Linked DNA regions of Homo sapiens: regions 1 and 3 are each linked to region 2. The links come from fine-mapping of genetic effects on gene expression. A gene starts in region 2. Each other region holds a variant in brackets. All regions are shown on one strand. Distances are between the middles of the regions. Region 1 has its middle 14 kb from the start of TMEM78. Region 2 holds the start of CCSAP (centriole, cilia and spindle associated protein). Region 3 has its middle 15 kb from the start of ACTA1.

What was found. PIP is the estimated chance that this variant, and not a neighbour inherited with it, causes the effect. A credible set is the group of variants that fine-mapping cannot tell apart.
Region 1: its variant is the best candidate, but not a certain one, in a credible set for the expression of CCSAP in naive CD4 T cells (Schmiedel 2018, PIP 0.60).
Region 3: its variant is the best candidate, but not a certain one, in a credible set for the expression of CCSAP in iPS cells (PhLiPS, PIP 0.62).

The regions. Positions count from the first base shown.
Region 1 is chr1:229,231,170-229,239,348 of GRCh38, reverse strand. No RefSeq gene overlaps it. Among named protein-coding and RNA genes, the nearest start is that of TMEM78, 14 kb to the left of the region's middle. The variant TAATAAG/G (reference allele first, on the strand shown) is at 3,396.
Region 2 is chr1:229,337,992-229,346,170 of GRCh38, reverse strand. It overlaps CCSAP (centriole, cilia and spindle associated protein), which reads left to right and starts at 3,124. Exons shown (of 4, transcript NM_145257.5): 1 at 3,124-3,259; 2 at 3,658-4,072. The coding sequence starts at 3,706. RefSeq lists silencers at 1,675-1,969, 2,816-3,675, 3,876-4,075.
Region 3 is chr1:229,414,708-229,422,886 of GRCh38, reverse strand. No RefSeq gene overlaps it. Among named protein-coding and RNA genes, the nearest start is that of ACTA1, 15 kb to the left of the region's middle. RefSeq lists enhancers at 3,774-4,527, 4,528-5,283, 5,915-6,416, 7,679-8,179. The variant G/C (reference allele first, on the strand shown) is at 4,534.

The sequences.
Region 1 (8,179 bases), 110 kb after region 2:
CTAACACATAACTGTCTGCAGATGGGGGAACTAAGAGAGCACTGTAACACTCCCTCTGGGGTTTTGGGGTTGTGGGTGCCCCCACCTAGGCGCTGCCACAGGCCCCACATGGAGCTTGCTCCTGCTGGCACCCAGAGCAGCCAGCTGGATCCCACACTCATTTACTCATGCCTGGTCTGGCCATGGGCCCTGCATGGAGCTTGCTCCTGCTAGTGCCTGGAGCGGCCAGCTGGATCCTGCACTTGCTTGCTCATGTGCTCCCTCTTGCAAGGGGCTGAGTACAGTGGGCCAAGTAGATGGGGATCCACCATTGTGAGTCCCACAAAGGGGCCAAGAAAAATCCTGCATCATGATCCCACCTGCCTGGGAGAAGCATCAGAAACTCCATTTGCTCCCTGTCTCTTCCTTCAGAGACTTTCAAGACTTGTGGCTTTCAAGGTCTGAGAATCCCAGGGCAGGGCGCTCGGGAGGAGGAAGGGCTGGCTCTGGGCCTGAGGGATGTTGGGGAGGAGCTTAGCTTGGGACAGTGTCCTGCCCGGGCAACTACCAAGCTGCATCCAGTTCTCAGTTTGCTCCTTTGTGTTATTAAATATAATAATGTTTATTCTTTTTCTTAATCCAGCAGTAATGAGTATTCATTTTTGAAAACTTAGAAAACATAGATAAGCAGAAGGAAGAAAATTTAAATATCCCATATTCCCACCAGTTTGGTAATATAGGCTTCCAGTGTTTTTCTATCATTAAACAAAAATTATGAGAGGCCATTGTCTTAGACTGAGTTCCTGCACTAGGCTCCAATAGACCAGACCAAATCAAAATGAAGTTGCTCATGCTAAATGCCACATAATCAGACTAAAACTTTAAAGAAGCAGATAGATTTCCAAAACAGACCAAGTTTTCCTGCAAACAGGAGATTCCAGCCTTCCTGAGTCAGCAGTATATAAGGAAGTCCCCTCTGCTTTAACCCTTATTACAAAAGCAACCTGAAGTAACCTGATGTTAACTAATCAGTTTTTTCCTACTGTTCTATTCCTTGTTTCTACCTTACAAAACCCACGGTTCTGCCATTGCCTGGTGGAAGCTCTCATTCTATTTTGTAGAATGGAGGCTGCCCTGATTCATCGCCAATAAAAGTCAATGAGATCTATAACAAAATTTGTTGTAATTCTGTCTTTGACATTACACATATGTGTGCACATGTACAGTACCTATATATTCACACACTTTGCATATTGTTTATAATTTGTTCTTCATTAAACAATGGGTTGTGAACATTTTTCATGCCATTAAATACTTTTTTTTTTTTTTTTTTTACAGCATTTCAGAATGGATGGGTATATCATACCTTATTTAACCAGCATCCTATTGTTGGACTGTTAGGTTTTTCTATCAAAAATAACCCTGTGATGAGCCTCTTGAAATTGCTGTCTTTGCATGGATCCACTATATTTCCTTTGGATAATTCCAAAAACGAACAATGGGTGTGTGTGAGTTAAAGCGTTTAACTTATTTCCAAAGTAACTTCCATCCCCGTGTGTGAGAAGGCTCACCTGCGCCTTTCCACCACTGGCTGTTAAAAAATTTTGAAACTCTTTGCCAGACTGATAAATGAAAAATGTTATTGAGCTGTGTTTTTTTTTTTTTTCTGTATTGGTGAGCTTGGACATTTGTATATGTTTATTCACTCTTTTGTGAATTGGCTGCTTCCTTTCTTAAGTCACAGCACTTAACAATCCCTGGATTGTTTTGGCCATTCAAAACCAAAGTGAATGGATCCAGGTTTTATTACTCTTTGAAAGGTAAACACCTCGCTCCAGGCAGATAAACCTGCAGAGACCTTCCCAGGGCAATTAATTCTCTAACCCTCAAGGTTTGTCCATCCTTTGACCCAGCTGCCCGAATGTGCAGAGTCCCTAACATATTTCCTTGTCACATCCAGTGGGGACCAAGGAATCTCACCTGTTTGGAACTGTGAGCTTTTAGGTAATAGGAACAAGAAATAAAATTGGTCAGAAAACAATAGGAAATCATGGAAGGCTTTAAAAGCCAAGAGACCGAAAATATCTACCTATGGTTAACAGGTAATTGACTTATTTTGGTTTTTGACTATTGTAAATACACTTGGTGTGAATGCGCAGGTGTGTGTCCTTCCGTGGACACATGCATTCATTTTGTTTTGAGTATTTACCTAGGGGTGGGATTATTGGGTCAGAGTATAGGTGTATGTTTAGTTTGAGTAGGTAACGTCAAATAGTTTCTCAAGGAAACAACAAAAAAATTTACACTCCAATCAGCGGTGTATCACAGCTCCAGTTGCTTTAAACTCCACTGACATATGGTATTTCTGTCCTCTAATTTTAGTTTTTCTGTTAGGTTTTATATTTCTTTTAATAAGTTAATATGATTTTAGATTTTATATTTCTTTTAATAAGCTAATTTGACACCACATATAATATTAATGTTGCTTTTCCATTTTCATTTTGTTTAGTTTTAAAAATATGTCTTTTTATATCTTCTCTTACTGATCTATAGATAATACATTTTATAGAACTATTCTACTTTCAAGATTTTATACAACACTTTCTAATAAAAAAACTCTGGGTATATTCCTTTTATAATTATTTTTTAACCTTTTTTTTTTTTTGTTTTGAGAAGGAGTCTCACTCTTTCCTCCAAGCTGGAGTGCAGTGGTGCGATCTCAGCTCACTGCAACCTCCGCCTCCCCAATTCAAGCGATTCTCCCGCCTTAGCCTCCTGAGTAGCTGGAACTACAGGCATGCACCACCACGTCCAGCTAATTTTTGTATTTGTAGTAGAGCCAGGGTTTCACCATGTTGGCCAGGCTGGTCTCAAACTCCTGACCTTGTGATCTGCCCACCTCGGCCTCCCAAAGTGCTGGGATTACAGGCGTGAGCCACCGCGCCCGGCCTATTTTTTACCCTTTTATGTACCACCTACAAATGGTTCCTCTTCGTGTGTACGCGGTGCATTTCTCTTTGACGGTGTCTTACCAATACTCCTTCAACAGGGAAAATGGTATCCAATACCTTCTAAGTTTTGTCCTATCCTATTCTATTAAAATAATATGGCAATCCAGGTGTGGTGGCTCATGCCTGTAATCCCAGCACTTTGGGAGGCCAAGGTGGGCAGATCGCCTGAGGTCAGGAGTTCAAGACCAGCCTGGCCAACCCGGTGAAACCTTGTCTCTACTAAAAATACAAAAATTAGCCAGGCATGGTGGTGGGCGCCCATAATCCCAGCTACTCAGGAGGCTGAGACAGGAGAATGGCTTGAACCCAGGAGGTGGAGGTTGCAGTGAGCCGAGATTACGCCCCTGCACTCCAGCCTGGGCAACAGAGTAAGACTCCGTCTCAAAATAATAATAATAATAATAA[TAATAAG/G]GCACACATATCAAGCTGATACAAATTCTGCATGGATTATTTTTAAGCCTCCTTCCTTCAGGAGTAAGTTACAGTGTAAAGAACATAGCTTTGCAGCCAGACTGGGCTTATATCCTGCCCACACAACTTGCTAACTGTGTGACCTTGGGCAAGTTAGTTAACTCTCAGAGCCTTGGGTTCTTCAATAACAAAACCCAGGTTTTAGGATTGTTGGGATGTTAAATGAAATAGTGTATATAAAGTGTCAAGCATGTAACAGCATGCTCAAGAAATATGTTTTCTTGTATGCTAGAAGCAGGTACATCAGATGCCTCTTTATCACATTTGCCTTAGTTCACAAAGCAATTAAAAATAGATACAGGGTGGGAGGGGATAAAGGATAAAAAAACTACATATTAGATACAATGTACACTACTGGGGTCACTCGGGTGAAGAGTGTAGCAAAATCTCAGACTTCACCACTAGACAATTCATCCATGTAACCAAAAACCACTTGTATCCCAAAAGCTGTTGAAATAAAACATATATTTAAAAAAATAGGTACAGCTAGAAGATAAGATGATGGCTTTAAAAAAGTAGGCACCATCTGCTGGTGATACGGACAGGAGACAGGGAAACACTGGGTAGAAGAGGGCGGTTCTCCGGCAAAGGCCCCCACCCTGAAGCCCAGATACCCGTGACCCTAAAGGAGGACAGGGATTCCTGTTTTCACACCCAAAAGGTTGCCTTTTGGCCATCCTGTACCCATATAAACCCCAAACCCCAGGCTCCAGAAGCAGACAAGGAGACAAGGAGACAAGCAGACGAATGGCAGAAAGGCACGGCAGAGAAAGAGGAGAATGTCTGAGCACTGAGAGGTATTCGGCTGCGGGGCAGTCGAAGAGGAGTTTGGCCACTGGATGTCCAAATTCCAGGGGAAGATCATCTTCCCACTCCGTCATTGGTTCTGTACGGGAAGGCCGGACAACTCGAAGTGAGGAGGGGGCTTCCAGGTTATAGGTAGATAAGAGACAAAATGGTTGCATTCTTTTGAGTTTCTGATTAGCCTTTCCAAAGGAGGCAATCAGATATGCATTTATCTCAGTGAGCAGAGGGATGACTTCGAGTTCTGTCTGTCCTTTGTCCGTAAGGAAATGCCTTGTGAGGGAGGTTTGTAGCTTTTAAAAAAGATCTTAGTAGCTATCATTTTCAGGAGTAGAATGGGAGGCAGGTTTGCCCTAAGCAGCTCCCAGCTTGACTTTTCCCTTTGGCTTAGTGATTTTGGGGTCCCAAGATTTCTTTTCCTTTTACACCCAGCAGCCCTGGAATGGGGTGGGGGCAGCATTTTATACTCTAAAATCAACTTCACTCCTAAAAGCCAGAAATCTATCTCTACCCCCAGGGTTAAGGTGCTGGTGCCCAGTCCACCTAACCCCTGATCCCACTTATTATGCTAACTCTTTAGAAATGGGTGGCTGAACAATGGGGGATGAAAACTTCAGGGTGCTGGAAAATGCTCTTAACAACAACTGCCAGAGAAAAGGTAGCCAGCTTGTGCTGCAGTGGGTGACCTGGAATTCTCAGCACTTTTCTTTTTCCTGTCTTTTCCCCTCTGCCCCCTACCAGTGTGTACACATTCGCTAAAAGGGACTGACATCAAGAAGGTGCCAGCTTGCCTAGTTAGGAGCAGTCATTGCCAATCAAGTCTTCAAATACGGACTTGATAGGAAAAAGGAACACGTTTTCACCCAAGGTTAAACACTAGTGCCATTCAGAACATGGAATACTACTGGAGAGCAGGATTTACAGTGTCTTTGGGGAGACAGTTTCAGATAATAGCCACAGTACTGTGACAGTCCCAGATAAGCCACATCCTCTCACTGTTGGAGGGCATCCCTGCTCTCTCCCATCATGCCTGCCACCTTGGTTTCCAAATCTGACTTCTCCCCTGAGCTAAAGTGCCAGATCTCCAAGCCAATGTCCCTTCAGAGGTCCATTTAGCATTCTGAAATGAATCATCCAATTTCAGTTGCTGGCTCCCCTCCCCATTCCTCTTGTTTCTGATAATGATATTGTAATCACCTGATGGGTTCTTCCTGCCGACGGCACAGACAAAACCAATTCAATGACACCATGGCATTGCAATAAAGAAAGAGTTTAATTGACATGAGGCTGGCCACACCATGTGGGAGATGAAGATATTACTCAAGTCGACCTCCCGGAAAATTCTGAGGCTAGGTTTTTCAAGGGTTACTTGGCTGGCAGGGGGCGAGGGGAACAGATGCGGCTGATTGGTTGGGGATGCAATCATAGGGATGTGGAAAATGGTCCTTGTGCACTAAGTCTGCTTCTGGGTGGGTCCGCAGGACTGGTTGGGCCAAGAGTCAAGGTCCGGTCATCTGGTCATGAGAAATGCAAAATCCTGAAAGGACATCTCCAAAGACCAATTTTAGGTTCTTTAAGAGGGATGTGCCGGGCGCGGTGGCTCACGCCTGTAATCCCAGCACTTTGGGAGGCCGAGGTGGGCGGATCACGAGGTCAGGAGATCGAGACCATCCCGGCTAAAACGGTGAAACCCCGTCTCTACTAAAAATACAAAAAATTAGCCGGGCGTAGTGGCGGGCGCCTGTAGTCCCAGCTACTTGGGAGGCTGAGGCAGGAGAATGGCGTGAACCCGGGAGGCGGAGCTTGCAGTGAGCCGAGATCCCGCCACTGCACTTCAGCCTGGGCGACAGAGCAAGACTCCGTCTCAAAAAAAAAAAAAAAAAAAAAAGAGGGATGTTATCCTCAGGAGTAACTGGGGAAGTTGCAAATCTTGTGACCTACAGAATAATGGCTGGTAATTGTTCACACCTACATCTTAGCAGAATTCAGGCTTCTCTCATCCTCCTAACCGGGTGGTCCTTTATTCATTTTACAAAGGCAGTTCAGTTTTGGGGAAGGACTATTATCATTTAAACTGTAAACTAAAGTTTGTAACTCCCCAAGTTAGCTTGGCCCAAGCCCAGGAATGACCAAGGCAGTTTGGAGGTTAAAGACAAGATGGGGATTGGTTAGATCAGATCTCTTTCACTGTCATAATTTTCTCACTGTTATAATTTTTGCAAAGGTGGTTTTTCAATACTATCATTATCTTGGGCCATTCTTTGTACACTGCTTGAAAATGATGTGATGTGTTGTTTTAAGTGAGGTGCTATGGGTAGTGGTTACTGCCTGGTGGAGCCCCAATATCCATCCATTCCTCCTTTGATAGTGATAGGATTTGCATTTGGGTGGCCTAGGATCAAGACTCTATTTCCTAGATGCCCCTGTCTCTGGGTGTGGTAACACACTCAGTTCTGGCCAAAAGACTGTGAGTGAAATCATTGGATGTAACTTCTAGATCATATCCTTAACAGGAAGGGGTGTGATCTTTTTCTATCCCATCCTCCATCCTGTTGCCTAGAACATTGTGGGGACGGGGAAGCCAGTTTGGAGAATGCCAACAAGGGCAGCACCGTAGAGATGGCAGAGCAACTGGAAAAGAGGAACCAGGGTCTTAGATCCTGTGCAGCTGCCATTCCAGCCTTGACTTACTATTTGCCTGGACGACTGGGAGACAGAGCAATAGACATCTATCTTGTTTAAGCCACGATTCTTGTGAGTCTCTGTTAGAGCACTTGAAACTTATCCTAAAGAAAAAAGCCATCAGAGAGGCCCCATTTTCCCCAAGCTGTCCAGTGGCTTAGTCTAAGAGGCCGGTCTACCTGTGATAGAGGCAGGAGAGAGCCAAATGCCTAGGCAAATAGAGAAGGGTCCCTGGAGAGCCTCCCACCTGCCCAGGTCATTGTGGACAGCGGGCTTCACCTAAACATGCCCATGGTGAAAACTTCCGTGCCTTAACATAGGTACAGTAAGGGAAAGAAATCAATGTGGAGGGGCTCAAGACTAAGAGCCCACGTGTGGACTGGCAGTGGTGCCTTTGCTGCTGGTGTATTTTCCTGACCAAAATCACCACCCACCCCGCCCCACAGAGGGCCAAGCTTGTGCCTCCTCACACAGACCTCTCTCTGCTTTGTCTGAAGTCCCACACTGCCCACAGCTGGTCATTTAATTACTCTTGGTTTGATGAGTCTCTTACTAATTCCAATAGTTCACAGAATCATTAGAATTTTGAAGCTGTCAATGATTTAAATGCATATTTTCCCAAGTAGAAATAGAATTTAAATTCAGATAGTCCTAATCTGATGCCTCCTTTTCAGAATGCTCCCCACCCCAACTACTGCTTTGATCATGTTAGAATAAAACTCAGAATCAAACTCCCCGGGAGGCAATGCCTGCAGCCTGCTTTCCAGGCAGTGTGGCTCCCCGCTGTGCCCTTTGAAATTAGTCACAACCCTTACTTCCCGTCTGGAGTTTTTGAGAGAACAGTGACATGACAGCCCATTGTACATGAAGCAAGTTAGGGCACGTCCTGGCCAAGATCCCAGGGTCCTGAGTATCTTGTTTGATCCCGAGTTGAATTTATGGATCACAGTACATCTCTGGCCCCCTTGTTTCAAAGACAGAATCCCTTACGTCACAAGAAGCAGGACAGGAAAAGCCACATAGCAGACTGGATAATTTAAATGTATAATGGTGGATCTGTTTTTCTAGAAGAGCTTAGGTAAACTCGGAGGTGACCTCTAATTCCAAATACAAGGCCAGGTGTGTACTGGGAGCATAATAGATGCTTACTGGCTGACAATTGCAGGGCTCACCTTAACTTTGGCTGTGGAGCACAGCTCTGATCTCAGAGAAAAATATCTTTCTCAAGTTTC
Region 2 (8,179 bases):
AATAATTTTCTTCTTCTGAGCCAGGGGAGGCCATCCTCCGAGGGCTTCCTCAACTTCCCTCTTCCTTGCTTCTGAGAAAAAGCTGATCTTCCAACTCACATGCTGTGTACCCACTCCTCCTGACTCCTCCCCAATTCACGTGCTCTGTACCCACTCCTCCCACACAGTGCTCCTTCCATCCACTGCCCTCTCCTTCCCATTTGTCTCTGGATGGTGCTGTTCTCTCTCCCTCTCTCTCCCCCCGTCCCCAGCCCCCGACTGCCCCTTCCAAATACAAACATACTCAGGAGACATCCGCTATCTACTTGACACTTTTTATGAATTCCCATGCCAGTGTAGAACCTAGAAAAGCCAGATATTTGCAAGCCTCTCTTGTAAATAGGGTGCAGTCGCTCAGGTTAGAGTGCAGTGGTATGATCTCAGCTTACCTCTGCCTCTCAGGTTCAAGTAATTCTCCTGTCAGCCTCCGGAGTAGCTGGGACTACAAGCATGCACCACCAAGTCCAGCTAATTTTTGTATTTTTAGTAAAAATGAGGTTTCGCCATGTTGGCCAGGTTGGTCTTGAACTCCTGACCTCAGGTGATCCGCCTGCCTTGGCCTCCCAGAGTGCCCTTATATTTGTGTGTGTGTGTGTGTGTGTGTGTTGTGTTGAAGATTGTAAAATATGCCCGCAAATTCCTTCACCCGGTATGCAATCCCTTTTGGAATGTGAATTTGCTGCTCCTCTTATGCAGAAGGGAAGTTCATTTCTCTCCCTTGACTCTTAGCCTTGTGATTTCTTTGAACGTGAGAATGCAGCAGGAGATGTATATGACCTTGAGATGCCAGTCCAGGCTTCTGGAGGATGTGACCAAGACGGCCCAGCCCACAGCCCACCCCACTGCCAGTTATGTAAGGGAGGTGTACTAGTTTGTTTTGTGCTGTTATAAAGGAATACCGGAGGCTGGGTAATTTATAAATAAAACAGGTTTATTTGGCTCATGGTTCTGCAGGCTATACAGGAAGCACAGTGTCAGCATCTGCTTCTGGTGAGGCCTCAGGGAGCTTCCAATCATGGTGGAAGGGGAAGGGGAGCTGTCATGTCACATGGAGAGAGAAAGGGAGTGAGAGAGAGAGAGGAGGACATGCCAGGCTCTTTTTGAACAACAAGCTCTCATGCAAACTAAAAGAGTGAGAACTCACTCGTTACTGAAGAATGGCACCAAGCCATGCATGAGGGATCTGCCCCCATGACCCACACACTTCCCACTAGGCCCCACCTCCAACATTGGGGATCAATTTCAACTTCAGATTTGGAGGAATTATCCCAACTATATCAGGAGGTCATCTTGAAACTTCCAGCCCTGCTGTCTCTCCATCAGAATCCAACTGCGGAGGAACTGCCCAGCTAACCCTCAGAATCATAAGAAATAATAAATCTTAGCTGTTTTAAACCACTGAGTTTTGGAGTGAATTATGCAGCAAAAGCTGAAACCGATGGTGTCCTGCATGTCCCATAGAACTACATATAACCATTTCCCCACCTTATTCAATCTTTATTAAGGCTACTTTGGTTGCAAACATCAGAAACCAACCCCAGCCAGCTTAAACAAAAGGAAAGTGCATTAGAATGTCCCTAATGTAAGTCAAGGAACAGAAAATAAAGTTGGGAAGGGGAGAAATCATGGCGTCCGCGGACTCATTAGCAGCAGGGTATCCTGGAGTTTCCGTCCAGAAAACTGCCATTAACACAATCCCGTGCTAATGATTGGACTAGTAACTTCAAGTTTTCAGAGCAGACGGTCTGACCCGCCCCATTTGGGCCAGTAGCCGCCTCTGAATCATTTAGCTATGATGAGGTGGGCGGTGGTGGTGGGAGGCAGGATGCGGACACGTAGAAAGTAGGTGAATTCGTGGGAATCCTGACGTGGAAGCCGTGAGCGCTACTCACGGCCTGGGCTTGCTTTTTAACTGCTATATATATATTTAGATTTTCCAAAAGTTTTTTCCTTTCAAATCTTTTTGCAGCTACTGTATCAAGGCTCTTTTTTTAAGAAAGGGAAAATAGTGCAGGACCACTTCTGAAACTGTAACAAATGGGGCAACGTTGTATTCTTCTGTACAATGTAACTGGATCTGTGAAGGTTTTTATTTTTTATTTTTTATTTTTTTTGAGACGGAGTCTTGCTCTGTCGCCCAGGCTGGAGTGCAGTGGCGCAATCTAGGCTCACTGCAAGCTCCGCCTCCCGGGTTCACGCCATTCTCCTGCCTCAGGCTCCCGAGTAGCTGGGACTACAGCCGTTCACCACCACGCCGGGCTAATTCTTTTTATTTTTATTTTTTTAGTAGAGATGGGGTTTCACTGTGTTAGCCAGGATGGTCTCGATCTCCTGACCTCGTGAGCCACCCGCCTCGGCCTCCCAAAATGCTGGGATTACAGGCGTGAGCCACAGCGCTCAGCCGGATCTGTGGAGGTTTTATGAGCAAAAAGGGAAAACAGTGCGGGGCCACTTTTGAAACTGTAACAAATGGGGCAACGTTGTATACTTCTGCACAAAGTAACTGGATCTGTGAAGGTTTTATGTGTAAAAAGGGAAAAGAGTGTGGGGCCACTTTTGAAACTGTAACAAATGGGACAACTTTGTATACTTCTGCACAACGTAAGTTAATCTGTCAAGCTTTTATGTGCAAACGAATCTCTGAGCGAGTGAAATGGTTTTGATCAAAATCTAAAAGAATTTGGGGAGTGTAGATATAAAAGGGAGTTAAAGCCAGAGTAACAGGTGTTGTGAACACAGAGAGGAAGAACCGGTAGGTTTCGAGTGAGGACAGAGAGTGTCGCCCCCGGCCGCAGCCTGGGGGGGCTGCATATCTGGAGGGATCATCTCTTGCCCCTAACTGACGACTCCTGCAGAGTGACGCGTGCCTGGGACAGCGTCTGCTGGGACCAGGGTGGACGGGCACCTCAAATAAGTGGGCCAGGGACCTGGGCCTGGGCCCCTCGGACTGGCAGGCACGCCCGCACCCCCGCGCCTCGCGCTCTCTACGGAAGCAGCCGCCCCCACGGAGCGGGCGGAGGCCCGGGGGCCGGGAGCGCGCGTGGAGGCTCCGGGACTGAGGCGGCGCCACCGCCTCCCGCCTGCAGCTGGAGCGCGGGCCGCCGCGGCGACATCTTGCTCAGGAGGAAAGCGCGCGGGAGAGCGAGCTGCGCTTTAGCTGCTGCGCCACGCGCGCCTCGGGCCTGGGCGCAGAGGATCGGCCGGGCGCGGCGGGAAGGAGGTAAGGCAGCCCCGCGGGACCGCACGCCTAGCTCAGGGGACGCCTCCGGAGACCCCAGGACCACCCGATCACGGGCCCCGCCGCTCCCCTCCCTCGCTCCTCCTCCCGCTCAGCCCCAGTCTCCTGCGGTCCCCTCGCCCCAGCCCGCAGCCTCCCTGCCTTCCGCCCACTGAGCAGCCCTCCTCGGCGGCGCGCCCCTCGACCCCAGCAGCCCCGGTCCCCGCCTCTGCTCTTGGTCCCGGCCGCCGGGTGAGGCCGCCCCCGCCCCGCCCCCTCCCCGCCCTCGCCGGGACCCGCCCCCTGCTCCCGTCCGGGCGGGGCTCCGGGTTTAAACGTCGCGGCGGGCAGGGCCGGCGGAGGGGCGGGGCGGCCTCTGTGTCGTGTACCGGGTCCCGTAGGCTGCGGGCAGCGAGGAGCGGCTGGCGCTCGAGGCGGCGGACGGCACCATGTCCCCGGGGAGCGGGGTGAAGAGCGAGTACATGAAGCGCTACCAGGAGCCGCGCTGGGAGGAGTACGGGCCGTGCTACCGCGAGCTGCTGCACTACCGCCTAGGCCGCCGGCTGCTGGAGCAGGCGCACGCGCCCTGGCTCTGGGACGACTGGGGCCCGGCCGGCTCCTCGGAGGACTCGGCGTCGTCAGAGTCGTCGGGCGCCGGGGGCCCCGCACCCCGGTGCGCCCCGCCCTCGCCCCCGCCGCCCGTAGAGCCGGCGACCCAGGAGGAGGCGGAACGGCGGGCGCGCGGGGCCCCGGAGGAGCAGGACGCGGAGGCCGGGGACGCGGAGGCCGAGGACGCGGAGGACGCGGCTCTGCCAGGTACCCGGCCCGGAGGGGAGCGCGAGGGGCCTGCACGCAGGGACGGTTTGCTCTAAGCTCTGAGCAGCTGATCTCTTATTTCTTGCGCCACTCGGGGCTGGCTCTTCCTTTTTTTTTTTTCGGTTGACAGAATCCGTCTCTCTTGACAAAATAGGGAAGGTGGCAGCCTTTGCCACCCTTTATTTCCTTAATTAGGTGGCTTTCGGTCGAGCCAGCGGTGAACTCAATTGAAGCGCCGCTGGCTGAGTCTGGGGTCTTTCCTCGCGGGCCTCTGCGGCTTGGCAAACCTCTGAATCCCATCTTATTTCTTGGCGAACCACTGAGTCCCATCTGCTTATTTCTAGGCGCCCATTTTTGATCAGAGGAGCCCCAGCTTTAATCAGATTCTCAAAGGTAACCCAAAAGGTTAAGAACCACAGAGCTAAGCTTTGTCTGATGAATGGGGCCATTGTTTTCCGTATTAACTCCCCGACCTCGCTACGCTGTCCCTAAAGAATATTTTGCATTTGTTTACGTGGAGTGTTGAATAACTTGGCTGTGAGAGCATCTTTATAAGTGCTAGGGCCTCTCCCCTTCCGTCCCTCCCCATCCTCCCTCGCCTGTCCAGATCCGAAAGCGCCGGTGGCGCTGCGCGTGTTTTCAAGGCATGGCCCCTTCACCTTCTTTCCTGCCCAGAGGCTTGCAGGGCTGGGGACCCAGTTGAACGCCTCAGTACAGCCTGGAGTAACCAATGGTTCCTTCCAGATCACTGGATTTTAAAAAGGCTCGAGTGAGGAAAACATGGAAAATGTATTGGGAGCCTGTTAGACATTCAGTCACTGATCTGGGAATATGTATGTTGTCATTTAATATTCAAAACAATCCCAAAAGAGACCATGTTGTAATCTTTTTTTTTTTTTTTTTTTGAGACGGAGTCTCGCTCTGTGGCCCAGGCTGGAGCGCAGTGGCGCGATCTCGGCTCACTGCAACCTCTGCCTCCCGGATTCACGTCATTCTCCTGCCTCAGCCTCCCGAGTAGCTGGGATTACAGGCACGCGCCACCACGCCCGGCTAATTTTTGTATTTTTAGTGGAGACGGGGTTTCACCATGTTGGTCAGGCTGGTCTCAAACTCCTCACCTCGTGATCCGCCCGCCTCGGCCTCCCAAAGTGTTGGGATTACAGGAGTGAGCCACCATGCCCGGCCCTAATCTCAGTTTTATAGATGAAAAAACGGAAGCTCAGGATCAGTGACTTTATTCATTTATGTGTTTATTTTTGTTTACCCGATTGCAAGCCAATCAGACTCTTCCTGGCTTCTCTGTGAGAGGCTGAGGAGGAGATGAAATTTCGGCTATGAGCCGGGTTGCTTTGCTCTTGGTTTTACCATCTTCAGCTATTTTCAGCTCATCATCGGAGGCAGGGCTGCCTCCTCCCATCATGATGTTACTTGTGAATCCCCACAAATCCTGATGCTTCAGTGATCACTGCTAGAAATGCAAATAACAGAAGGTGGAGGGGGTAGGGAACATGCCTTCCAGATTATTCCTGTGGGTACTGATCTGCTAGCTAAATTGAGATGTACTTTATCAGGCTAAATGGCTTTTCTCTCCCCGATCTTTTATTGTTTGTGATGGAGTTGTCAAATATTTGCATGCAATATAAATACAATTTTTAGGCAGCGTTGTGATATGGATGGTGCCTGTATTTACCAGCTCAGGTAAGCTCTGAGTTCATGATTATTTTGGTTTCCTTAAATATAGCGTCCTCTCAGTTATTTCTTCCCTGCTAACGTTTCTGGTTTAGGCATCAGGAAGAAGAAAGGATGTTTTCTGCTTTCAGGACTCAATCGCAGCATCTTTTGTTTTGCTCCTACCCGTAAGGCCCTCTTGACTCCTGTGTTGCTTGCACAAGATTAAATATCCTGGTTTTTAAGTGGATGGTTTTAAATACTAGTGCAATGAGCACTCTTTTGAGTTTCTATAAAATATAAAATTTTTTACTTTCCCTGAAGCCATAGATGCACATAGAATCACGTAGTTCTGTCTGACTTATTACAAAAGCACATCAGCCCTATGCCATACATAACACCCTGGTTTTTCCTTTGGTATTTATTTCTGTATCTCCAAGTAACATGGCTTTTATTGACATGTGATTGTTTTTTTTCAGTTTTTAACATTATCTATTGACTTTAATTCTTTTTTACTGCTCTCCTCACCCACACACACACGGCCCATCTCCACACCTGCACAATACAGTCCTCATAGAGTTTGTTGGATTCATAATTAGTATGTACCGTATTGTGCCCATGGAAAAAGTTACTCAAAGCTGACCCATACTATTTCCCATGATTCCCTTTTTTCTTTCACAATACAACCAACACATCAGGTTCACTATCACTCTTGTCATCTTAAGATGCCTCTCCCAGGGCCCCTGACCTACTTCTGTCTGGGCTGGCTGCTGCTCCTGTGGGCTGCTGCCTGGCTGGCATCTTGGGAGGGCCCTTGGCCATCCTCCTAGGACCTTTCTTGGCTTCTCTCTTGGGTTTGAGTCTCTGTCGTGTGCCTTTCATGTCATTTTCTTTCTTGGTTTACCCCTTCTTGGTGGAGCACATCTTCTAGTAGATTCCCAAGAAAGGATGGTTCAGAGGTTAGCTTTCTTTGAATGCCAAGAGATAGCTTTATTCTACCCTTACAATTTGGTGAGTGTGGCTGGGCATGGAATTCTAGGTTGGAACAGTTGTCCGTAGAAACTCTGGGGGCATTCCTCCTTATGTGTTATGACTGCTGATGTTACAGCCTGCCTCGTTATGATTCTTGATCTTGATCTTTTGTAGGTAATGTGTTGCCCTCAGGAAGCTTTCACGGTCTTCTCTTTGGCCTTTATGTTCTGACATTTTTCCTTGATCTAGATCTGTTTTCCTTTGCTTTGCTGGGCACTTGGCAGGTCTTTATAGACAAACTCATGTTTTTAATTCCCGGAAGTTTTCTGGAATTATTTTCTTATTTCTGTTTTTTTTTTTTTTCCCATTTCTTTTTTTTCTGAAGTCCTTAGTTGGATATTAGACTTTATCATTTTATCCTCTAATTTTCTAAGTTTTTTCTTGACAGATTTTCATCTTTTATTGTTTTGTTTTCTGGGTGATACTCTCAGCTGTATCTTCTAAATCTCTTATTACATTTTCCATTTGAGGGATCCTATTTTTCTTTTAAATGTAAGAGCTCTTGAATTGTTTTCTGGGCTGCCATTTATTCCCTCCCTTACCTCCCTCCTTTCCGTCCCTTTTTATTTCTTTTTACAACACAGTATCTGGTTCCTGATTGATGCATGTAGGGTTTTATCTTACTGAGGATATATATTAGAATTTTTCGTTTGTTTTCTTCTCTTTCTGTGTTTCTTCAGCACAATCTTTCACTTCTGCCTCTTTGTTTCTTTTTGCTGGTAATTCTCTATTTTCATGTTAGGCACTTTTCTCAAATGTCTAATGATCCTTCGTTTCTCATTCTTATTTAAGGGATGGATACTAAAAAGCTGTTAGGAAATTCTGTGTGTGTGTGTGTGTGTGTGTGTGTGTGTGTGTGTTGGGGTTTGGGGGTGGAAGTGCTTGTGAACCGTGAGATTCTTTTCCTCCCATAGCCAATATGCTATGAAGAGTGGTCTAGACTGTCTCCGATTCCTTACTTCATAGTCACGTTTTCTTTTTAGGTTAGATTTTATTTTTAGCAAAGTTTACATGTGCAGTAATTTAAAACATTTTGCTTAAAATGAAAAAAACATGATCCTGCCCCATTTCCCACCCATGCCCCTTGCTCCTTTCACTCAGTTTCGCTTTCCTTTCAGCATTGGCCACCCTCTTTTTATTTAATCTTATCTGTTGGCTTTTTGATTGTGAACATTATCTACTGACTTCCCATTATGGGAGATGAAGATTTAGCTCAGGATCTTAGCTCTGCCTTCCCTATTCTACCCCCAGACACATACCAACACCCATTTCCTCTTCTCCATATCCCCACAATATTAACTATATGATTGCTTTGTTTAATCTCTGTTCTGTGTTTGAATTATGGCTGTGTAGATATTTGCAGGTGAGCCATGTAATATATTCTGATTACATTTTTTTGTTAAAATT
Region 3 (8,179 bases), 77 kb before region 2:
GGCCCCAGGCTTTGCAAAGCTGTTAAACCCCAAGTGCAGGGTAGTTGGAATAAGCAAACACTCTCCGGACAAGAGCTATTTCTAGGATCCTTGCACTTACAGCTTTTCTTAAATTTTGGCTAATTCTTTTTTTGGTCTGAATTTTAAAAAAATATTTATTTATTTATTATTTTTTAGAGACAGGGTCTCACTATGTTGCCCAGGCTGATCTTGAACTCCTGGGCTCAAACGATCCTCCTGCCTCAGCCTCCTGAGTAGCTGCCACTACAGGCACATGCCATCATGCCACACTCTGGCTTAGTAATTCTTTACCACCCGTTAATTCTTCAGTGTTCATAAGAAGATTAAAAAAAATCTTAGGCCAGGCATGGTGGCTTATGCCTGTAATCCCAGCACTTTGGGAGACTGAGGCAGGAGGATCACTTGAGCCCAGGAGTTCAAGACCAGCCTGGGCAAGATAGTGAGACCCTGTCTCTACAAAAAAAATATTATTTTTTATTTTACTTTAAGTTCTGCACATTTTACATGTGCAGAACATGCAGGTTTGTTACATAGGTATACATGTGCCATGATGGTTTGCTGCACCTATCAACCCGTCATCTAGGTTTTAAGCACCGCATGCATTAGCTATTTGTCCTAATGCTCTCCCTCCCCTTGCTCCCAACCCCACCGAAAAATTTTTTTTTTTAATTAGCAGGGGTAATGGCGTGCACCTGAAGTCCCAGCTACTCAGGAAGCTAAGGAGGGAGAGTCATTTGAGCCTGGGAGGTGGAGGCTGCAGTGAGCCGAGATTGCACCACTTCACTCCAGCCTGGGCAGCAGAATAAGATCCTGTCTCAGCCGGACGCGGTGGCTCAAGCCTGTAATCCCAGCACTTTGGGAGGCCGAGGAGGGCGGATCACGAGGTCAGGAGATTGAGACCATCCTGGCTAACATGGTGAAACCCCGTCTCCACTTAAAAAAATACAAAAAAATTAGCGGGGCGTGGTGGCGGGCGCCTGTAGTCCCAGCTACTCGGGAGGTTGAGGCAGGAGAATGGCGAGAACCTGGGAGGTGGAGCTTGCAGTGAGCCGAGATCGCGCCACTGCACTCCAGCCTGGGTGACAGAGCGAGACTCCATCTCAAAAAAAAAAAAAAAAAAAAAAAAAAAAGACCCTGTCTCAAGAAAAAATAACGTTCTATCAAGCATTTTTAGTTGGTTTCAATAGGAGTGTTAATCCCAAGAACTTAGCCCACCATATTCCCTAAAAATAGACCTCAACATACCCTACTTACCAGCTTTGTCTTTAGCCGCCCCTGAAAAACATCTCAAATCTCACATGTAGGCTTCGGAAAGTTTGTCCCAAATTCTGATGCCTTATTTTAAAGCTGTTGCCTTTTTCCTGGGCCTAAAAATGCACCGAATCTGAAAATTTTCCCAGGATGACAGGCCACCAGCTGGGAGGCCGAGATGCCTGGAGCCCTCGCAACCCAAAGCTAACGTGCCATGTGTCAACAGGGATCAGTTGAACCATGAATACAAAAAAAAAAAAAAAAAGAAAAGAAAAGAATGAAGGGCGAAGGGGACGAAGAGAGTAGGCCAAAGTGAGAAATCATCATGACAGCTTCCGGGGGTGGAAGAGGGGGGATTTTTCTTCCTGACCTTTTTGTACCTCAATGTTTCCACCAATATTATTTTTTCAACAAATACGCGTTATGTTAACATTAAGAATATTAAATCAAATGGCACAAATGAATAATTAAACAGAAAAGAAAGGATCTACTCGTCCAGCAGACCAGAATTCTCTTTCCAGTAGGACAAGTTTGGGCGGATCCATTCACAATCCTGCTGATGACCACAGGCCAGGCTCCTGCGACAGATGGAGGAGCTTAGAGGCTTGGGCTGGGCAGGGGATCAGAGGATCATATACAATCATACACGTGAATGACACATGGGATCATAGGTGATGCAAGGCGGCACCTGCTGGAAGGAGCTCAAGTTGCTGCTTTCATTGACCTGCCCCGTCCACCAGAGCAATTCTGGATGCACTTAGCAGACATCGGTGGAAAGAGAATATATGGAATTCAGGAGACTGAGTTCTATTCCCAGCTCTGCCTAGCACATTAGGTTTCCCCTGCCAATACCATTCTGCCATGGAAGAGGGAGGAGCGGCTTTTCTGCAGGATGAGGGAGCAAGCTAGGAGAAGGGGGAGAGTCACATTTTTCCAAGGACACGTTCCTTGAGAGCTTCAGAAAAGGTTCCACTGTATTCTTTCTCCTTCCAAAGCTACAGAGCTCAAGATTCTCCCCCACTTTCTTCCCTCCCTTTAGTTTTGTCCATTCATCAACACATATTTATGGAGTATCGCTACCATTGCAGGAACGGAGACGTGCGATATGGAATATAGTTATATGGAATAACTTAACCCTACTTGAACTTCTTCTCAAGTAAATGCTTCAAAAGGATGCCTGTCATCCCTGGGCGCGTGTCAGGGCGCATGTTAGGGCGTCATCTCAGGGCGCATGTCATCTGTTTCTAGAATCTGGATTTTCTGCTAATGTTTGTTTCAGCCTCTAGTGCTCAGTGCAAGGCAGGCAGGTGGAAGCAGGACCATGCAGGTACAGTGAGGCTCCCGGAAGACCTCCATGCTCAGATCTCCAGGTGCCCTGGGGCGGAACCTACCAGGGTCATTCTCCCAGGTTTGGGGGATGGGGGAGCTGCATGTGTTTTCCCACACCACGCTGGCACTGGAGACCAGGAATTTTTAAGCCAGGAAACTCAGCATCTCTGAAATTATCATGGGATCTCTTCCCGACATGGGCAAGGCAAACACTGGTTCAGGCTGGGATGAGGATGAGGTGAGAGGCCCCAGAATCTGCACTTGCACTTGTACCACCAGCACAGAGGATGTGCCTCACTTCCCACACCCAGTCCCAGCCCTGCACTGGGTGGCTGTATTTTTTCCAAGGGGCAGCCCCGGGCACCATGAGGCAAAGCGAATTGTTCCAGGCTACAGGAGAGCACAGGCACTGTGGCCCCCCAGCCAGGGAAGTGTCTGTGTCCTTTTTCCTCCATGCACTTTCCTGGTTATGGGACTACATGGGAGGGAGCTGTGCTGCTCCTCAGTCTGAGAAATTAAGACATCTAAAATCAAGTTGACATTATTCTTCAGCTTATTTTCCAAACGGATCCAGAACCCCCTCCCCTGCTATTGCCCTGCTTATTGGCACCCCCTCCAATCCTCAATTAATTCACTAATTTATTCAACCGACACTTGCTGAGCACCTACAAATCAGTGTCTCGGCCCTCAGGGAGCTGGCAGTCTAGCTGAGAGGCAGATATTGATCAAACAGCAACATGGGCTGGGTGCAGTGGCTCAGGCCTGTAATCCCAGCACTTTGGGAGGCCAAGGTGGGTGCATCACCTGAGGTCAGAAGTTTGAGACCAGCCTGGCCAACATGGTAAAACCCCATCTCTCTCTCTCTCTCTCTCTCTCTCTTTTTTTTTTTTTTGAGACAGAATCTCGCTCTGTCACCCAGGCTGGAGTGCAGTGGCACCATCTCGGCTCACTGCAACCTCCACCTCCCGGGTTCAAGTAATTCTCCTGCCTCAGCCTCCTGAGTAGCTGGGATTACAGGCATGCACTACCACACCCCGCCAATTTTTGTATTTTTAGTAGAGATGGAGTTTCACCATGTTGGCCAGGCTGGTCTCTGTCTCACGTGTCCGTGTGAAGAGATCACCAAACAGGCTTTGTGTGGGCAACAAAGCTGTTTATTTCACTTAGGTGCAGGGGGACTGAGTCCAAAAAGAGAGTCAGCAAAGGGTGGTGGATTATCATTAGTTCTTATAGGTTTGGGGATAGGCGGTGGAGTTAGGAGCAATGTTTTGTGGGCAGGGGGTGGATCTCACTAAGTACATTCTCAAGGGTGAGGAGAATTACAAAGAACTTTCTTACGGGTGGGGGAGATTACAAAGTACATTGATCAGTTAGGGTGGGGCAGAAACAAATCACAATGGTGGAATGTCATCAGTTAAGGCTATTTTCACTTCTTTTGTGGATCTTCAGTTGCTTCCGGCCACCTGACCTTGTGATCCGCCCTCCTTGACCTCCCAAAGTGAAGGGATTACAGACGTAAGCCACTGCGCCCTGCCCATCTCTCTTAAAGATACAAAAATTAGCCAGGTGTGGTGGTGGGTGCCTGTAATCCCAGCTACTCAGGAGGCTGAGGTGGGAGTTTCATGCGCCTTGTGAAGAGACCACCAAACAGGCTTTGTGTGAGCAACAAAGCTGTTTATTTCACCTGGGTGCAGGTGGGCTGAGTCCGAAAAGAAAACAAAGGGAATTAAGGGTGGGGCCGTTTTATAGGATTTGGGCAGGTAAAGGAAAATTACAGTCAAAAGGGGGGTTGTTCTCTGGCGGGCAGGAGTGGGGGTCATAAGGTGCTCAGTAGGGGAGCTTTTTGAGCCAGAATGAGCCAGGAAAAGGACTTTTACAAGGTAATGTCATCACTTAAGGCAAGGACCGGCCATTTTCACTTCTTTTGTGGTG[G/C]AATGTCATCAGTTAAGGTAGGGCAGGGCATTTTGACTTCTTTTGTGATTCTTCAGTTACTTCAGGCCATCTGGGTGTATATGTGCAAGTCACCGGGGGTGTGATGGCTTGGCTTGGGCTCAGAGGCCTGACATTCCTGCCTTCTTATATTAATAAGAAAAATAAAGCAAAATAGTGTTGAAGTGTTAGGGCGGCGAAAATTTTTGGGGGGTGGTATGGAGAGAGAATGGGCGATGTTTCTCAGGGCTGCTTCAAGTGGGATTAGGGGCGGCGTGGGAACCTAGAGTGGGAGAGATTAAGCTGAAGGAAGATTTTGTGGTAAGGGGTGACATTGTGGGGTTGTTAGAAGAAACATTTGTCATTTAGAATTATTGGTGATGGCCTGGATACAGTTTTGTATGAATTGAAAAACTAAACAGAATAAGAGAAGGAGAAAAACAGGTATTAAAGGTCTAAGAATTGGGAGGACCCAGGACATCTAATTAGAGAGTGCCTAAGGAGGTTCAGCATAGTCCTGCCAGCAAAGATTATTTACTTTAAGACTTAAGAGTGGCAGTTTGGGGATAGCATCCATATCAGCTGTGATGGCTTGGAGAAACAGTATAAACCGGCAGTGTAAACAAAAGCAGGGCATGTGTGAGTAGCTGAGAACGGTGAATAGGATTATGACTAGACAGAAGATAGTAGGGATGACAATTTTTTTGGAGCACCGTCCAAGTTGGTCTGGTGTCTGGAATGAGACTGGGGCCTAATAAAAAGGAGCATCTATACAGGAGCTCAAATGGGCTGTACCTTGTAGCATTCTGAGGACAGGCTTGAATTCTGAGAAGGGAAAGTGGTAAAAGTATTGTCCAGTCCTTTTTAAGTTGGTGGCTGAGCTTGGTGAGGTGTGTTTTTAAAAGACTATTAGTCTGTTCTACCTTTCCTGAAGACTGAGGACCGTAAGGGATATAAAGGTTTCACTGAATACTAAGAGCCTGAAAAAAATGCTTGGCTGATTTGACTAATAAAGGCCGGTCTGCTATCTGACTGTATAGAGGTGGGAAGGCCAAACCGAGGAATTATGTCTGACAGAAGGGAAGAAATGACCGCGGTGGACTTCTCAGACCCTGTAGGAAAGGCCTCTACCTATCCAGTGAAAGTGTCTACCTAGACTAGGAGATATTTTAGTTTCCTGACTCGGGGCATGTGAGTAAAGTCAATTTGCCAGTCCTGGGCAGGGGCAAATCCCCGAGCTTGATGTGTAGGGAAGGGAGGAGGCCTGAACAATCCCTGAGGGGCAGTAGAATAGCAGATGGAACACTGAGAAGTGATTTCCTTGAGGATAGATTTCCAGGATGGAAAGGAAATGAGAGGTTCTAAGAGACGGGCTAGCGGCTTGTAACCTACATGGAAGAGGTTATGAAATGACAACAGAATAGAATGGGACTGTGAGGCTGCAAGGAGATATTTTCCTTGGTCTAAGAACCATTTGCCTTGTGTGGGAAGAGATTGATAGGTGGAAGTTTCAGCAGGGGAGTAGGTGGGAATGACTGATGTGAAGGAGAAAAACTGGCTGTAAGGGACAGAAGGTGGAGAGCTAGCTGCTTGTCTAGCCACCTTATCAGCATAAGCGTTGCCTAGAGCAATGGGATCTGATGCCTTTTGATGGCCTTTGCAGTGAATGACTCCAGCTTCCTTTGGAAGTGAAGCGGCCTTGAGCAGAGTTTTTATTAGAGGCATTAATGATGGAGGACCCTTGCGTAGTGAGGAAACCTCTTTCAGCCCATGTGACCACATGGTGGTGCAGAATATGAAAGGCATATTTAGAATCAGTATAGATATTGACGCATAGTCTTTTTGCAAGAGTGAGGGCTTGAGTTAAGGCAACTAGTTCGGCTTTCTGAGAGATAGTGGAGGGGGGCAGAGCAGTAGCCTCAATGATAAATGTGGAAGATACTATAGCGTAGCCTGCCTTTGCTGGTGAGTGGCGATTAGGCCTGGTGGAACTGCCATCAATAAACCAAATGTGATCAGGGTGAGAAACAGGAAAGAAGGAAACGTGGGGATATGGGGTGAACGTCAGGTGGATCAGAGAGATGCAGTCATGAGGGTCAGGTGTGGTATCTGGAATAATGTGGGAGGCCGGATTGAAGTCTGGGCCAGGAACAATGGTAATTGTGGGACTTAACAAAGAGTGAGTACAGCTGAAGGAGCTGAGGAGCAGAAAGTGTATGCATCAGGTGTGAGGAAGAAAATAGATTTTGGAAGTTATGAGAACTGTAGAGAGTGAGTTGAGCATAGTTTGTGATTTTGAGGGCCTCTAAAAGTATTAAAGCAGTGGCAGCCACTGCAAGCAGACATGAGGGCGAGGCTAAAACAGTAAGGTCAAGTTGTTTCGACAGAAAGCCTACAGGGTGCGGTCCTGGCTCTTGTGTAAGAATTCTGACCGCACTAACCATGCCTAGGAAGGAAAGGAGTTGTTGTTTTGTAGAAAGGATTGGGGTTTGGGAGATTAGCCGGACACGATCAGCAGGGAGAGCACGAGTGTTTTTATGAGAATTATGCCGAGATAGGTAACAGATGAGGTTGAAATTTGGGCTTGACTGAAGTAATGGGGGATGTCTGTGAAGCCTTGCAGCAGTACAGCCCAGGTAATTTGCTGAGCCTGATGGGTGTCAGGATTAGTCCAAGTGAAAGTGAAGAGAGGCTGGGATGAAGGGTGCAAAGGAATAGTAAAGAAAGCATGTTTGAGATCTAGAACAGAATAATGGGCTGTGGAGGGAGGTACTGAGGATAGGAGAGTATATGGGTTCGGCACCATGGGGTGGATAGGCAAAATAATTTGGTTGATAAGTCGCAGATCTTGAATCAGCCTGTAAGCCTTGTCTAGTTTTAGGACAGGTGAAATGGGGAAATTGTAAGGGGAGTTCATAGGTTTTAGAAGCCTATGCTGTAGCAGGCGAGTGATAACAGGCTTTAATCCTTTTAAAGTGTGCTGTGGGATGGGATATTGGCGTTGAGCGGGGTAAGGGTGATTAGGTTTTAATGGGATGGTAATGGGCATGTGATCGGTTGCCAGGGAAGGAGTAGAGATGTCCCATACTTGTGGTTAAGGTGGGGGGATACAAGAGGAAGATGCAAAGGAGGCTTTGGGTTTGGGAGAAGGCTGGCAATGAGATGCGGCTGTAGTCCAGGAATAGGGAAGCAGATAATTTAGTTAAAATGTCTTGGCCTAATAAGGGAGCTGGGCAGGTGGGGATAACTAAAAGAGAGTGCATAAAAGAATGTTGTCTAAGTTGGCACTAGAGTTGAGGAGTTTTAAGAGGTTTAGAAGCCTGGCCGTCAATACCCACAATAGTTATGGAGGCAAGGGAAACAGGCCCTTGAAAAGAAGGTAATGTGGAGTGGGTGGCCTCCGTATTAAGAAGGGGATGGACTTATCCTCTACTGCGAGAGTTACCTAGAGCATCTGTGACGGTCCTGTAGGCTTCCGAGGCGATCGGGCAGTGTCAGTCTTCAGCTGCTAAGCCGAGAAGATCTGGGAAGGAGTCAGTCAGAGAGCCTTGGGCCAGAGTTCCAGGGGCTCTGGAACTGGCTGCCAGGTTAGTTGAACAGTCTGATTTTCAGTGGGGTCCCACACAGATGGGACATGGCTTAGGAGGAA